2 separate regions of the Homo sapiens genome follow, and region 1 is linked to region 2. The links come from fine-mapping of genetic effects on gene expression. Tissue or cell type: whole blood. Region 2 holds a variant in brackets; the other region holds the start of a gene. All regions are shown on one strand. Distances are between the middles of the regions.

Region 1 (2,916 bases), 24 kb after region 2:
AAGACACACAAAACTTGAAAAACTAAACACACACAAAAACTCGAAAAAGAACATTCTCTAACGCAAACTCCTGTCTTTTGCAGATAGCAGCAGAGATTTTCTGCTTTGGGCTGTGACTCATGTACCTTTATTCCCACAATTGTTACTCAGGGCAGGCCAATGGTGAGCACAATGGGAAAAGAAAGAATAGGTTATAACTGGAAAATAAGCACATTCGGGCGAAGTACACTCAAAGCATTATCAAAGTAAAATATGCAGCAGCACCAACAAGAGCAAACAAAAGCCCACGCAGGAGATGTGTAAATATTTCATGAAGCAAAGCCTTAATCAACCCTCTCTCCCAAATCTTGCTGGTGTTGTAAACACTTCAGTTTCTTCTAGTCCCACCATGACCCAGATACCTTGCAAAAACAAAATAAAAACATAGTCCAATGGATCTTTAAACAAATGTGTTGTGAAAATATTTAGATGGAGCATACCCAAGTACCGCTTTAACCAAGAGGAAGAAGACACCTTACTCAAAGGTGGGTGCTTCTTGAGTGACTGCTCAGAGCTCTGTTTCTCCCCTCCCCCTCCAAGCCCTTGCCTTTTGCCCACCTCCTCGGCTGCTTTGTGGACATTCACATCGTCTTAACCTTGAACTGCCTACACCCCAAGCGGTGATTTCTCCCAATGGCCCTCCAGAAAGCCCTTGAAACCTGGTCTGGATTCGATGCCTTCCCATCACCCAAAATTCACTTCCCAGTGGCATATTAAGTACCTCTCCTTTTTTCCCTCTTTCACTGTCCATTATTGCGTCTGAAATGATGCCTACATCGTTTCCATCTGCCTGGAGAGCATGAAGATCTTCTGTGTGTGTTGGCTGACAGGCTCCTTCAGACCTCTTCTAAAGCCCATCTTGAAAGAACCGTTTATCACCTCTAGTCTCTACCCTGATTTAATGTGGTTCCAAAGTTCGCCTCTATTAGTGAACATGTCTCTACAACGATTTCCCTTTATCAACCCCTGCCCGCCCTTCCTCTTCTTTCTGCCTACCTCAAGAAAACCTATTTACATATGCATTTATGTATGTGTGTGTATATACACACACATACATACATCCATATGTAATATATATTTCTATGTTTTGACCTTAAAGGGGATAAGCATAGGAAAATGAGACAAATGTCACACACACACACACACACACACACACACCCCTCATATTCGGATATTCGCAGTGTGCAGACCCGATTGATTATAAATTTCCCTGCCCACGATCAGCAGGCGTCTTCTCCCATTTACCTTCAAAGCCAGAGCCAAAGAGAGCAATGACCTTGCAGAGAAATTCATCACCTGCGAGAAAGACTGCCCCTCCTAGAGCGCAGGATGGGACAGAGACAAGAGCAACAGGCAAAGGATCCCTGTGCAAAATGTGGGACCGAATCCCTTCCGCATCCCTACAGAGCACACCACCAGGCTCCGGTCCCCCGCGCTGGCCGCCAGGCGGAGGTGCGCAGGGGGCGTCTCCTACCTGCTCTGCCCGGCTCCGCGGCGCGGCGGGGCCACTGCCTGCGCTGTGGCGGGGGCTTCCCGTCGCATATCCCAAGCACCGTCTCTCGGCGCCACACCGATGGCTCCGGCGGGCCCGCGAGCTGAGGTCCTTCTCAGCCCGGTCCCGGAGCGAGCTCCGTGCGTTCAGGAACTGAAATTACTATGCCAAGAGCAGAGGCGGCGCGCAGCAGTCGGGCGTAGACCGAGGGGGCTGCCCCCACCGCGGGGCTGCAGACGCCGCCGCCGCCCCCGCCGGGCGCAGAGCCAGTTTGGAGGTGAGAGTTCACTTGCCCGACTGTTCATCCGTCAGGCCCGGGGTGTACCCATCTGTCCAGCGCTGCCCAGCCTGAGCATCCGAGAGAGGGGCGACAGCTTTGCAGGCGGCGGCGGCGGCAGCAGCAGCGGCGGCAGCAGGAGGCCGAGCTCCGCCCCCTCCAAACCCCCTCCCCCGCCTTCCCGGTCCTGGGGGAAAGTGTTGCAGCCCAGGCTGCTGAGCGCCGGGCCGGGAGCTAGGAGGGGTCTGGTGGGTTGTGGTTCTGCACCCCTGGAGACCAGAGACAGATGGAAAGTTAAGAAGGGATTAAGGAAGAGGGCTGGGGACCCAGAGCGATTTAGCAGGCATTCTGGCCCTTGCTCCCTCCCACAGGTCACCAGACTCCATGGCTGAGTCTAGACTCTAGCAGAAGGTTTCCAATAAAGCCACGTGCAGTGGAGATCTGAAAGCAAGATCATCCGATAAGTAATATGTTTTGCAAAATGTACAGTATCCTGCGTATTCGGAGAGGCACTGCTGACAGTGTTCCTGTCCCCATCCCCTTCCCGCTACCCCATGGGCTTGGAGGGCTTTGAGGGCTTTGGAAATCTTCCCTGTTGAGCAGCTCCAGAATCCTGAATGGATGTGTAGTATGGTTAGCAGCTGTAGATGGTGCAAAATGATACGATGAAAAGAGCTTCATTATTAACTGGGTATTTGTTGGAAGGCTCTGTGAAAAATGCCTTACATACAGCCTCAGCCTCTTTAATTCTTACTACAACCCATTGAGGTGCCTTACCATGTGGACGAGGAAACAGGCTTATATGATCTAAACACTTTGCTTGAGGTCACACAGTAGTAACCTGCTCAGCTGGGATTCAAACCAATCCAAAATATATCCTCTCATCTAGTACACAGGACTCACCTAGGGGGTCTTGTTAAAATGCTGATTGTGATCCAATAGGTCTGGGGTAGGGACTGAGGAAACGCTTTTTTAGTTTTTTGTTGTTGTTGTTTTTTGTTTTTTGCTTCGTCTCCTAGGCTGGAGTGCAGTGGCGCGCTCTCGGCTCACTGCAAGCTCCGCTTCCCGGGGTCAAGCGATTCTCCTGCCTCAGCCTCCCAAGTAGCTG
Region 2 (2,916 bases):
TGCATTCTAAAGTCTTTATTATAATGCATTGCTATGCAGTCATCTTTTTTTTTTTTTTTTGGTCTCTTTAGTAAGAGTACTGTAGAGAGTGAGTGGGTGCCTGGTAGTCTCAGTATCCTGCATGGTGCTGGCAAGAAGAAAAAGAAGTACAGTTATTGTTTGGTGAATGCTAACATGCCTCTAAAGAAATGTGATTTTTATTTCGTGTATAATGCATTGCCAACAAAATTACTGTAACATAAAAGAATAGCCATTTCTATTACTGAAGTTAACTATATTCACTAGCAATGATGAGAATTATGTCCATCCTATCTCAAATCATGAATTATTTGCTTTGAATTTATTTTACTGTTTTGAATAGTAGTTTATAACAAAAATCAATGTCATATGAGTATCTAAATAATAGAAATATCCTTTGTAAACAATAAGATACTGGGAGTCAGGAATGTTTCCAACATGCCTTGTTACCTTGACCCTCAAGGGGTTGTAATCTCTCACCTGCTTCAGTGGTGTGCATCTATTATTGGGATAAACTCACAGATTTATAAGCCTCATTAGGAAAGGAAGGATCCAAAGTGTGTAGAACAAGCTTGTCCTTATGCAGTCCAGGACAGCTTTGAACATAGCCCAACACAAATCTGTAAACTTTCTTAAAACATATGTGATTTTTTTGCAATTTTTTTTTTTTTTTTTTTTTAGCTGATCAGCTATTGTTAGTGTGTTTTATGTGTTGCCCAAGACAATTATTCCAGCGTGACCCAGGGAAGCCAAAAGACTGGACAACCCTGGTGTAGAATATTAATCTGACAAATCACTTGTCAGAAGTATGGGATTTTTACCCACTAAAAACTACCTCTTCGTGGCCCGAGGTGGCTCAGAGAGCTATCCCCACTTTGCTGTCATGGGAACTATGAATCACAGTCTCAGAGTCTACATCGAAGACCTCACAAATCTGTGGAAATCTGCCTAATAAAGATATAATAACTTGGACTTTTAAGAATTCACTAATTTGATGACTTGCCACACATGCGATTATGTTACCCTCAGATGGTAATGGAGGAATGTTTTTCTGAAAGTGATAAGAACACTATGCACATACGTTCAGGCCTAAAAAGACCGATTGTTATTAATATTAACAAAGATAGCCAAGGCCTTTAGTGTTTTGTTTGTAAAATCCCTTGCTTCATTGAGGGCTATGAGAGGAAGTAAAGACAGGCCTTCAGAGTAATTATTTTTCTTATTCACTCAATTCATGCAGCTGAACAATAGGCCTATGTAGCACAAACATTAAACATTACTTTTTAGGCTATCCCAAATTGTTTAACATACACAATGTGCCAGGCCTGTGGTGGGTTCTAGAGAGCCACAAAGGCTCAATTCCTGCCTTCAGAAGCTCACATCCACTGGGCAGAAA[G/C]GTGATTTCATTGCTACAGATTTCAATGGTAACACAAGAAAAGAATGACTCATTCCAACTTTTGCAATCAGGGAAAGCTTCCGGGGAACCAGTGGAGATCTGCTGCAAAACAGGGAAGGAAAAAAATACCAGGAACATAGTAAGTAATCACACAGATCATGGTACACACAAGGTGGGTGGAATCTGCCAGTCCTCACCTTCAGGAAGTTCATATCTAGTGGGGGAGGCAGAAACATAAAGGGAGACTGGACTACGGTATAATGGTGAGCCCTTTGGTAGAGCTCGGCATAGGGTGTTATGAGTGCACAATGCTGGCATATCTAAGAGAAGGCCCACCCAAGGCCTCTGAGTGTAAGCAACAGCAATGCTGCCTTGAAAACTAAGCAGGACTTCACCAGTGGGGAGGAAAGGGCATTTCAGGTGCATATGGACAAGCATGAATAGATATACAGGCAGCCTACTGGGGAAGTGGTTGAGGGTGGGGTGGGGCTGGAACAATATTTAGTTGGCATGGCTGCAGCTCCGGATGCAAGATATAGGGCTAAAGGGTGTGACAAAGTAAAACTGCGGGGGGCTTTGTAAGTGAAACTGTGAGAAGTAGGGCACTGGCAGCAGGAACTGAGGGAAGGATGGACCTAGAAATACTGAAGAGGTCAAATCAGCTGTGCCCTCTGATTGAATGCGAAGGATGAAAGAATGGAAGGATCCAAGGTTTTAAGACAAGGCAGAAAAGCAACTGTGTTGAGGTAAACGCTATGACAGATGGTATCACAGGGTACCCACCACAAGCTGGTGAGGTAAGGGCCTCAGCAGGATTCTGGAAAGGTGTGCTGGGCAGAATGCCCTGAAGGATGGGGAGTCAGCCAGGTGAAGGAATGGGTGGGTGGAAGAGGCCACTAAAGCAAATGAACGGCATGAACAGAGACAGGAGGCTGAAGACCACATGCTGGAGGACTGCCAGCCATTCAGAATTACTGTCCCTTACCTTCTGGAAACATTTCACTGTGTGAGAGGCACAGTGGTTAACAATGCCTCTAGGATCAGATTATTCAGGTTCACATCTGGTTGGCCACTTACAAGCTGTGTGGCCTCAGGCAAATTAGTTGACTCCCCAGTGCCTAAGGTTTGTAACACTTGCCACCCAGGAATGAAAATAACACCTTCCTCTAGGATTGTTGTGCATTCTTAGAAGAGAGTTTTGCACACAGGTTAGCTAGTAGTAACAGCAATAATATTAGTGATTATGGTAGTAGAATTACTTGGGCTTTCTTACTAACAGGAACTCACCACCAGGTCTACCTTCCAAGTCCACTGCTCCTTCCCTAGCTCCCTTTTCTCACCCTGAAATCGCCTTTGCAAAAATTATATCAGTGAGAATATTATGGCAGTGGGGGAGATCTGATCTAGCCAACCCAACTCCCCATTCCTTGCCTTTAGCTTTCAAGCTGCCTTAATTATTCTTGGACTTAGGCCTAGGCCTAGCTAACTTTGGAAGACATTTA

The links.
Region 1: it holds the start of GPRIN3, and the variant in region 2 is fine-mapped to the expression of GPRIN3 in whole blood (TOPMed, PIP above 0.99).

Annotation. Positions count from the first base shown.
Region 1 is chr4:89,306,102-89,309,017 of GRCh38, forward strand. GPRIN3 (GPRIN family member 3) reads right to left here and starts at 1,699. Exons shown (of 2, transcript NM_198281.3): 1 at 1,514-1,699. RefSeq lists silencers at 1,649-1,698, 1,709-1,778.
Region 2 is chr4:89,281,919-89,284,834 of GRCh38, forward strand. All of the region lies in intron 1 of GPRIN3 (GPRIN family member 3), which reads right to left. Among named protein-coding and RNA genes, the nearest start is that of GPRIN3, 24 kb to the right of the region's middle. The variant G/C (reference allele first, on the strand shown) is at 1,415.